Regions from separate parts of the Homo sapiens genome. Here region 2 is linked to region 1. Evidence: fine-mapped expression QTL. A gene starts in region 1. The other region holds a variant in brackets. All regions are shown on one strand. Distances are from middle to middle.

The links. PIP is the estimated chance that this variant, and not a neighbour inherited with it, causes the effect.
Region 2: its variant is fine-mapped to the expression of ARHGAP31 in whole blood (INTERVAL, PIP above 0.99). The same link has a PIP of 0.9 or more in blood mononuclear cells and monocytes.

The regions. Positions count from the first base shown.
Region 1 is chr3:119,291,639-119,297,014 of GRCh38, forward strand. It overlaps ARHGAP31 (Rho GTPase activating protein 31), which reads left to right and starts at 2,745. Exons shown (of 12, transcript NM_020754.4): 1 at 2,745-3,366. The coding sequence starts at 3,267. RefSeq lists an enhancer at 2,168-2,217 and a silencer at 3,058-3,177.
Region 2 is chr3:119,320,487-119,325,862 of GRCh38, forward strand. The region is part of intron 1 of ARHGAP31 (Rho GTPase activating protein 31); the gene reads left to right. It overlaps ARHGAP31-AS1 (ARHGAP31 antisense RNA 1), which reads right to left and starts at 2,274. Exons shown (of 2, transcript NR_046748.1): 1 at 2,128-2,274. RefSeq lists enhancers at 1,945-2,802, 2,803-3,659 and silencers at 2,222-2,581, 2,632-2,981. The variant G/A (reference allele first, on the strand shown) is at 2,639.

The DNA.
Region 1 (5,376 bases):
AAGTATTTTGAGAATTACTTGTAAATTATCGTTTGCATGCTTAACTGATAGCCTTCATTATGAGAAAGACCATATTTAATAAAAATTGTATGTAATTTAAAAATTAATTCAGACTTGAATAAAGTCTGTTGATTGATTAATATTATTGTATCAATATAAACTTTCTAATTTTGATAACTATACTCTCATTGTATAAGATATTAATATTTGGGGAAGTTGGGTGAAAGGTATATGGGAATTCCTTGACTATTTTTTTGTAAATTTTTTTTTTTTTGAGACGGAGTCTCGCTCTGTCACCCAAGCTGGAGTGCAGTGGCACCATCTCGGCTCACTGCAAGCTCCGCCTCCCGGGTTCACACCATTCTCCTGCCTCAGCCTCCCGAGTAGCTGGGACTGCAGGCGCCCGACACCACCATGCCCGGCTAATTTTTTTGTATTTTTAGTAGAGACGGGGTTTCACCGCGTTAGCCATGATGGTCTCGATCTCCTGACCTCGTGATTGCCCGCCTCGGCCTCCGAAAGTGCTGGGATTACAGGCGTGAACCACTGCGCCCGGCCTGTAAATTATTTATAAGCTGGAATTACTTGAAAGTGAAACATTAAAAGGAAGTTTTGAAATATTTAAAAAGGTAATTAACAGGGCTTGGCAATTTCTCCATTATTTGCACTCAGAAAAGGGGCTCTTTCAGCCTCTCTCTTTTGCTGACAAGATGATGAAATCCACGTAAGTCAGATGAAAGAATGAATGCAAAAGTCCTTGCTGAAGTAAACTGCTAAGCAAATGCTAATAGTGATCATTATAGTCCCATATGGAGCTGCTTCTCTATAAATAAAGGGAGGAACAAGCCATTGTACCAAATACCTTATCAGATACTCTCCAAGCAGTTTACAAAATGCTTAGAAATTGCTGCCCTAAAAGTAGGACTGGGGAGCTATTGAAAGGTTTTCAGCAAGGCAGGCAGGCATATAACAACAGCAATCCTTCAAGATGACTCCTCAAGCTTTTAATACATAGGATGGAGGAAGTGGAGGAGATTGGACTCAACAAATCCCACTAGGAGTTACTTTAATAATTGAGGAGTGGATGGTCCTCACTGAGTGGGCCTGGAAAGGAATAAACCAAGCTGAGAGGCATGGTGAAGAGCTCATCGTCTGGGCGGGACTACCTTGCAGGTGGGAGAGGAAGGAGACAAATGAGTCTGTGGTTACTTGAAGACATTTCACCAAGATGACTGGGGCAAATGCTTCTCAGTGTCACTGAGAGATGGAAAATGAAAAACAGGAAAGACAATTCATAGAGGTTGGGCTGCAAACTCAAGTGGCAGCAGAGGCCAGGCAGGTGCAAAAGGGGGAAGACAGGCCGTGGGGTCTGCAAAACTGCAAGAGTCGTCTCTCTAAAGAGGGTGCCTCCAAGGGGCCTGCCACAACTCAGCATCAGCCGTCCTTGCCATATGGGAATGCACTTGTGGTGTAACTAGATCTTCCATTTTTTCAAGAGAAGCCAGAAATTCAGATTTTATGTGAAATCTCTTAACTTTTTAATGCTAGCTACTAATTTTAAAACGTGTTAAAGCATGGTGTCTGCCAGCCAAGTACATCTATGGGCCAGATCTGGCAGGGTGGCTATCAAGTTGTGACCTCTGACATAGAGAAAATGTCAAGGGTCAAAGTTCATAGACTGTTAAGGTTACATAGAGAGACAGTGACTGTAAAGGGATTCAGTACCTAAAATGCTACGGATGCAGCTTTGCCAGCAATCTGAGCTGTATGACATATGCCCCTATCCTTCAAGCCTGTATATGGATTTGAATTTATACAGGAAGTTTCATCTAATCCTCAAATGGTTAAATCACAAGAATTTGAGTGCTTTCTGTGTGCTGAGTACACAGAAGTTAAAGAATTTAAAATCTAACTGGAGAAGAAAAAAACATGCCCTCTTGAAACAACTTGAAACAAATTATGAAAGAACCTGGGAGACTGCTTTCTTCACATTTCATGTGTCAGAGGCATCTTAAATCCTGGTTTGTCCCCCCCAAATCACTTCCATTTAGAAAACTTTGCAGTAGTGTGTGTGTGTGTCTTGAATATGTAACCAGAAATCTGATTTCCTGGGCAGTGGTTACAAAGCTGCAGCCTCTCTTTGCCCAGGGGTATCTTTACCCCAGAGTGGGAGGGGAGTGAGCTGAGGTGGGGGTGCACGAACGCTGCAGAGGAGGTTGGGATGGGAGTGGCCGGCGTGAAGCCACTGCCTGTCAGGTTTCTCCGCTGGAGTCCCCTGTTTGTCTCTGTCATTACTCTTTAAGTATTTGCGTAGCAGACAGGCGGGCACCGAAATAGAAAGTGTCAAAGATACGATGACAATGAGGATAAAACCAGGGCAGAGGGTTCTGAAAGTCCCAACCAGCACGGTCCCCGCAGAATGCCAGCGCACCTCCTCCCGCCACTTCAAAGAGCCGGCTCGGCGGGGCAGGAAGCGGCGGCTGCGGCTGCGGGTCCTGCGAGAAGAGCGCGATTTCCTCCGGGGCTGCCCAGTTATCTCTGGAGTCGCAGAACTGCTCTCGGGAGAACGCGTTCTCTACCCCAACCCCGTGCTCCTCAACCCACCCACCTACTTCCTCTAGCTCCACACACTCACAAGCACCGAGCTGCCAAAAATTTCCACCCACCGCCCCCCTCCCTAGCTAACTTCCTTCCAGCATTTCCTGAGCTGGATGATCCTAGGATTTGTAAGACAGGAAAAAAAGGAAGGCGTGAGGGCGGGCAGCAGCGACAGGATGCTTGTTTTTCGCTCTACCAAAGTCGTCTGAAGGCGAGACAGCGGGCCCAGGGCGCAGGACCCACCGCAGCCCCCTGGGCAGTCTCCTCGCCCCGCGTCCGCGTCGTCTCCGGGGCACTTAGTAAGGGGTGGGGAGAGCTTGCCCTCCCTCTTAAGCTGAGGAGAAACACCCGAAGACACCGCAGGAGCCTGTGAAAGTCCCTAGGACTCCAAGTGAGGAAGTGACACTCCCAGGCGAGCCGGCCCGCGGCTGCCAGTCTGCACGGCCTCGGCACGGCGGCCCCGGAGCGGCGCGGGGTGGATCTCAGGCTCTGCCGGCCCGCGGCCCGCGGGGTCCATGCGCAGGGCCCCCAGCCCAAGTTCTTCCATCTTCCGATGCGGCCCCCCAGAGCCGCGGGGCAGCCGGTGATCTAGCCCGGGAGCCCATCTTACAGCGGTGCCAAGCAGAGGGGCGGCAGAGACGGAGGGGCAGCCTCTTTGGGACTAACTCATGAAGAACAAGGGTGCTAAGCAGAAGCTGAAACGAAAGGGAGCCGCCAGCGCGTTTGGCTGTGACCTGACGGAGTATCTGGAAAGCTCGGGACAGGATGGTAATGTGCCTTGGCCTTTCTCCCCCGCCCCCACCTTCTTTTTGTTTGAGGGAGAGACGGACTCTCTCGAGTTGTGATAGAGTCGGTTCACAAGTTAATGTATTCCAGGCCTGTGCGCTCATTGCACTTTTTTTTCTTTTTTTTTTTTAAAGAACATAAACGATTCTTAAGGTGCACAGCGCTGCTGTCCCGACGCGCAGAGGCTGCTGTGTCAGTCCTTCCGTTTGCCTCACACAAGCTGTTAATGGGTGGTACTGCCGCAAGTTTACCGGGCCACCTCAGGGGATGGGGGTGGAAGCTGCAGAGGTCCCAATCCTAAACTTGGCACGTTGGAAGGGAGGGAGGAGGGGTGGACATGTGGGATGGTGATCAGTGGTCTTGCCTGGGTACAAAATCATGACCGCCTTAGCTGTCCCTCCTGGGCTCTCCAATTTCGTCTGCTCACATCTTTTTTTATTAATGTGTTAGAAGGCAGTTGCGGGTGGGGGGTGGGGGAGGATCCTGGCTGGGGGAGTGGTTGCACAAACATTTCTGAATTTCTGAGCTGATGCCAAATATATAGTACCTCCACCCCCTTTCCACAACCCCCTCCCCGCCCTGCAAGACCTTTTCCCTCCTCTTGGCTTTCAGATTAACATTTGGTGTGTCAGACAAGAAGAGTGTTGTAAAAAGGTCAGAGGGCCTCCATTTTTAAATAGTTTAGGGTAAGTAGAGAAAAGGAAAACTTCTCTGTTTTCAAGGTCAGATGGGGGTAGGGGGGAGTTGGGGATGGGGGAATCCAGCGGAGACAATTTAAACATTTGTTGGGGAAGGGGGAAAGAAAACACCATCTAGATTACAATAACAGCGTTTGAGCTTAGAAGTGTTTAATCATAGGAAAGTTGGAAAATTGAGCATTAAATGACTCCTTTTGTAAGGTTGACTGGTTTTGCACTTACCCTTGACAAAAAGGCCTTGTCTTCAGAAGCTTCAGCGAGAGGAAAATAGCCTACTATATAGGCCATGTGTTTATACATAGATAGATACAACAAAGGGGAAAACTAAGGGCTGTGTAACCGTGCGGAATAATTCTGCCTCCAGGAAAATAATCTCAAAACCTATTTGATTAGTCCATATCGAATATGCATTTCAAAAACAGTGCAATGCTTTTGTTTCACTTCTGTGTTTTGGGAGACTCAGCACCACCTAGTAATTTGCAGTGGTGTGATATTCCTGTGGTATTCTAGAGTTCAGTCTGCTGTGTCATTAGGACAAATAGCTTAGGATTTTAGAGCTTGGAGAACCACAGGTTTCAAAACTGACTCTTTTGAAATTGATGCATAACTTAACACTTCATTGAATCCTCACCAACCATCTGGAGAGGTAGATTTGAGATAAAAATCACTTGGTTTGAGTTTTTTTGAGTGTGAGAAAACTCCAAGTATGCCTCTTAACCACTATCGTCAGAAGTTTACAATGAAAGGTTCCTCTTCACCTATTTTTGCAGGGGCCTTCAAGTTAACCTCCAGGTACACTAGGAATGCTCCTGGGATGCCACCTTTCACCATGCGGGTGTTATTCTGGCCCCTCCCTCAAATCTGTGAGAGTTGCATAGGGGTGCTTGCCAGCCCTGTTCGTTCTTACAAACTAATAGATTATAGGATGAGCCAGAACCCCAGGGTTCTATGAAGATATGTCAAAGGCAGCTTTAGGCAGCTGTTCTTTCACCTGCTTTATATTTTGGGCTTCTGCATATGTTTCATTTAGACAAAAAAAAACAGAGACTACTGCTTAAAAGAATGGCAAACCAGTACCCCGGGTTCCCCACCCTGGGGAGGGGGAAAAGAAGCCCAGAGGGGTAAATTGGCCTGCCTGAGGTTGTACAGCTAATCATGAAGGATCGGAGGGCCCTCCCTGGCCTGTTAGGTTCCTCTGCCCTCCCTGGCTTCTGTGTCTAAGCCAACATTCTCTTCTAATGATATTTTCCCCCTAAATTGAAAGCAGACAGCCCTGCTACAGGATCAGCAAACT
Region 2 (5,376 bases), 29 kb after region 1:
ATTCTTCAGGATTAAAAAATATTATCCTGATAAATACAGTAAACCCATTGTAAACAAAACTTTTCATGATGCAGTAACCTTACCCATTACTCCCTTACCTCCTATCTTAAATAATGTTTGAGTGTATTCTTCCCTTTGCCATTAAAAGTTCCATTACTTCTGCCCACAAACCAGCAAGTCCTCACCAATCAAGAATCAGCTGCGATCTCATCATTTTCTTTTTGTGTATTCTAAAACTCAGATGTTTTCTCTCCTCTGGCCTACTGTGGCATGCCCTTCCCTTTCACTAATATCTTGGACATTGATATGGTTTGGCTGTATCCCCACCCAAATCTCATCTTGAATTCCCACGTGTTGTGGGAGGGACCTGGTGGGAGGTAATTGAATCATGGGGCCAGGCCTTTCTCGGGCTGTTCTTGTGATAGTGAGTAAGTCTCACGAGATCTGATGGTTTTGAAAAACGGGAGTCTCCTTGCAAAAGCTCTCTCTTCTCTTGAGTGCCTTTAATCTTCCACCATGACTTGTGGCCTCCCCAGCCATGTGGAACTGCAAGTTCATTAAACCTCTTTCTTTTGTAAATTGCCCAGTCTCCAGTATGTCTTTATCAGCAGTGTGAAAACGAACTAATACAGATGTATAAACATTGACCCATCCTCTTTAACTTCCATATACCCTTTTTAAATTGCAGAAAAATCATTCAATTAGTGGAAAAATTGCTCAAGTAAATTTTATCATCTTTCACCCAGGCCCGGTGATTTCCTATTCAGCAGCAATTTCACATATATATATATACTATATATATATATATAGTATATATATATGTATTATGTATATATAATTATATACTATATATGTAAAATTTTAAAATCAATGTTTTCATACTTTTTAATAATACATGCTTATCCTCATTGTAGATAAATTGGGAAATACATAAATGTTTTAGAAAGAAAAAAATACTTGTATGTAATTCTATCACCCAAAGATGTAACATTTTGGTGGATTTCCTTCAAGTGTTTTTTTTCTATGTACATTTTCATATTGTGATTACACTGTGTGTGTGTATATATATATTATATATATATATGATTTTGTGTCTTGCTTTCTTATAACCGAAGTCTTTATTCAAGTTATAAAACCCTACATATAACATTTTAAGGCTCCGTAGGTTTTGTTTTGTTTTGAGACGGAGACTCGCTCTGTTGCCCAGGCCAGAGTGCAGTGTCACGATCTCAGCTCATTGAAGCCTCTACCTCTCGGGCTCAAGTGATTTTCCTGCTTCAGCCTCCCAAGTAGCTGGAACTATAGGCCCACACCACCACGCCCAGCTAACTTGTTTTTGTATTTTTAGTGGAGACGGGGTTTCGCCATGTTGGCCAGGCTGGTCTTGAACTTCTGACCTCGGGTGATCTGCCCGCCTCAGCCTCCCAAAGTGCTGGGATTACAGGCGTGAGCCACCACGCCCGGCCCATAGTAGTTTATCATATAAATATGCCAGTTTATTCCCTGCCTCCATTACTGGACATTTATAGTTATGATTGTTTTAATTTTATGAACAAGCCCACAGTGAATATTGTGAGGCATATGGCTCTTTTGTTATGTAATATTTCTTTGGAATAAACTCCCAGAAGTAAAATTGCTGGATTAAAAGGTGTGTTATTAGTCAGAACTCTCTTGGTTGTGACTGAAGGAACTCTGACATAAGAAAAAAAGTGGGGGTTAATTACTGATTCATAGAAGCAAACTTTGGCAAAGACAAGAAGGGAGCTGGCTTTAGGGAGCTGGGACCAGAGGCTGGAATTTTAACCTCCTGACTTTCTCCTTGTCTCTTGAATTTATCTTAGACATAAATGAAAATAGAGGTAACTCAAAGCGTCTAACCCACAGTGACAATTGCTGCTCTGTTTTTAGAGCCGGGATTTTGTTCGTGGACTTGCCTTGCCTGGTGGTTGAACTTTGCAGCCCCTTCCTCCTCCGGGCAGCTTCTCTCAGTGGCAGCTGTGTTCCCCATGGTTTGTCCTGGATGTCTCCCTTGTGCCATCCTTGCAAGCCCGCGGCCAGCGCCTCCACCCACGCTCCGGCCTTGCTCCCACTCCCACCGCTCTGCCACCTCCCACCTCAGCCTCCCACCTTGGTGTGGAGGGACCAGCGTCGAAGACAAAGGAATCTCTGACGAGAACCGGCCAGTCCGGGAGGGACGGCGGGGAAGGGGGTGCTGCTCTGGCGGAGCCCTCACTTCACTCGCTTCCCCTCGAGCGCCCCTCTAGGCTGGGGCCCGGCCGCTCTGGGCCTGCTCCTCCTCCCGCTCCTGTTGCGGGGCACCAGGTCAGACCCTACAGGGGGCTCCGCCAGGGGGAGGGGGAGAGGGGCTCCCTTCAAACTCGGCCCGGCCGCGGGGGTCCCGGGTGCCCTCTGCTGGGCTCCTTCCACGTCCTTGTCCCTCCTGAACTCCCGTTCCAGCCCTGCCCCCGCCCCGCAGTAGGGAACGGACTCGTTTCTGCCCCGCCCCGGGGTCCGGGCGCCCGCCCGGCGCTTCAGCTTCAGCAACGTCAAGGCCACGTTCCCTCCGCTCCAGCTCGAAAGACGGTGGCGCTGACTCTGCTCTGCGCGCCGCAGCTTCCTCCCGCTGCTCCGCCCAGCG[G/A]TTTCTGATCCCCTTTCGGCGCTGGGGACTCACACGCTGCGGCGACAGGAAAGCCCGCGCCCCCGGCCGCTTCCCGGAACGCCCTCGGGGACGGCTGAGTCACTTGGCGCCCGCCCGCGCGGCCACCGAGCCCAGAAGCGGGGAAAGCCCAGAAGCGGGGAAACCCCAGGGACAGCCGCCGGCCCTGGGGGCAGCCAGCGCTCCAGGCCGCCCAGCACCTCGGGCCCGGATGGGCTTCTCGCGCCCCAGGGCTGCGGCCACACCCCGCCGGCCCAGACCCCGCGGGTAGAGAAAGGAGGTGCAACCCTGAGAGCCAAGACGTTGGGCTTGGCTTTGCTTTGCGTTTCTTTCCTTTTTTCTTTTGTTTCTTTTCTTCTTCTTTTTTTTTTAACCACATCCAGGAAGAGGAGAAACCTGTCTCATGACAGGAAACGAAGAGGGAGGATGCATCCGAACTGAGGGACATTGTTTCAGTTGCCTCACCTGACATACTGTCTCACCTGAGAGAGGGAGGCCGAAGAGGCAGCCAATGGTGGCTGGAGCAAGCCCTGTCCTCGTTACCTGGGCTGTGGCTGAGCCCTGGGGCTCACCGGCTGTATGGCCCTGGGCAAGTCCTCGGAGCCTTAGGTTCTCTGCAAAATGGAGATGATGTTTAATAGAAAATGTTTCTATAACTTTTGTGGCTTACTTTTTGAAAAGCGAGGGAGGGACTTTTGTCCTTCCCTCCTCGCATCTCAGTCGCAGTGCTGGTTCACAATCAGGCTGTTAACGCGGTTTCCACATTTCCTGTCCTCCCCCTTCCCCTTTCCTGCTGGGAATAAGAAGGTGGGCCCCCAAGGAGACAGAGGGTACACTCGTAAATGAAAAAGAAAAGTCAGCACAAGGACCCTTTGCTGCGGAGATTTCTTTTTCCAGGTATCCTAAGTGGGGCTCTTGCCATCCCTGCCATCCCTGCTCTACACCGAAGGGGTGAAGTCCTGGGACTCTGTTATGCCCATCTGTATGTAATCCTAGGCAAGATTATTACAGTAGCGCTTTCCTCTTTTTAGAATATACCCTTGTCTAGCCCCTACCCCATCTTCAGGACAGTAAAGGTTCTCAACTCACTTCAAACCCTCCTAGCCGTCTAGAACAGTGGCTCACAACCGCAGACCCATAGGAAATGTAGGGCCATCTATGTAATAAATTTATCCGGATGTATTATAACAATTTTAAGGTTACACTTGTCCTTTCTTGAACAGGACAATTCTTTATTCTAAGACTATATGCTTCATAGTTTTAGTTATTTTGAATTGTCCATTCTGTTATGAAATACGATAGTTATTGTTGGTTGATGTCCTCTCTCAGAAAAATAAAAAATTAGCAGTCCTAGGTAGATCCCCCAAAATCTTTTAAACTTGATCTGTGAAATCCAAAAAGCTTGGGTACCATTGCTGTATTCCACATGTGGTTCACATCAAGGTTCCTTGTCCCTCCCAAGGAGATTTGTAGCTATTAAAAGAAACAAACAAACAAACATAAACAACAAAAACCCTTTCGAGAATCAGATCCTCAAAGAATGTTTAAGGATAGACGTGGAAAAACAAAGAGTGGGGAGAGGAGTCTTTCTCTACTCTCAACCCCTAGCCCTTAGTGTAGGTGAAGGCAGCACAGTTGTATCTATTCTAACTGGTATTTAGTATTGAGCATAACTTTTAATGGACGACTCCTTTTAGTAAAACAGAGAACCAATTTTGAATAAACCAAGGTCTCTTGGTCTCTCAGTTTGCAGATCAGCGGAATGGCTAAATGAAGGTGCTATACTTTACTTAAAAGGTGAAAATGTGTCATTTGGGTAAGCAATAAGCAGTACTCCTCATGTCAATAGTGGCATAGTGTGGACTTATATGATGCCGTCTTAAATTAGGCCTCATTGGTTAATGTTTATTGAACACTCTCAGTGTGTTTGGTGCTAATTAAAATATCTTCAAGTCACAGAATCACTGCCTTCTAGTAACTAGTGATGCAGCAAGCTGTAACTGTTGAATCATACCTACCTATATCAACACAGATACTACACATGCATATTCATCTTTTTTGGATGCTAAGATAAAATTTTGCTTAAAATTCTTACTTAGTTGTGTGGGAAGTAGGGGAAAGGAAGATTTTTAAATTTGAAATGGTTGTCCTAGGATAGGAAACCATCGCAGCTGTCATGCACATTAATATTTTAGAAACACATTCACATATCATCTCTGTTGATCTTCCCAAGACGCTGTGACTCTACAGGCTGATTTCAGAGATGTTGTTCCCCCTTTACAGGCAACATATTTTAGTGGCTTGCCCAAGGAGGCTTACCTAAGGCCACACTGCTGGGTCGGGAGTCTGCCCTGGGTCTGCCTCTTCCCACTCACACTGTTGCAGTCCTGTATTCTGGGAAGGCCTCTATGGGCCAGTCCCAGAGCCTTTGAACCAGGGGAGAAAGGGTGGAGGGGAAGCTAGCTTCTCCTAGTTCTGTATACCCAAGAATCCACCTGGTGGGGATGGCGGGGGTTGGGGGGGAAGGGGGGGACGGAAATGACTTAGCCTGAAGGCAGGCTGTTTGACAGCTAGGGCAAAACAGTGGCGAGAAGAAACTCAGGGAAAGGAGAGAGGAGCTACCAGTAATTTTCAAACTTCGCTTAATATTAGAATCACCTGGGAAGTTTTTAAAAATTTTTTTTGATGCCTAGCTGTCACCCATACTGATTAAATCAGAA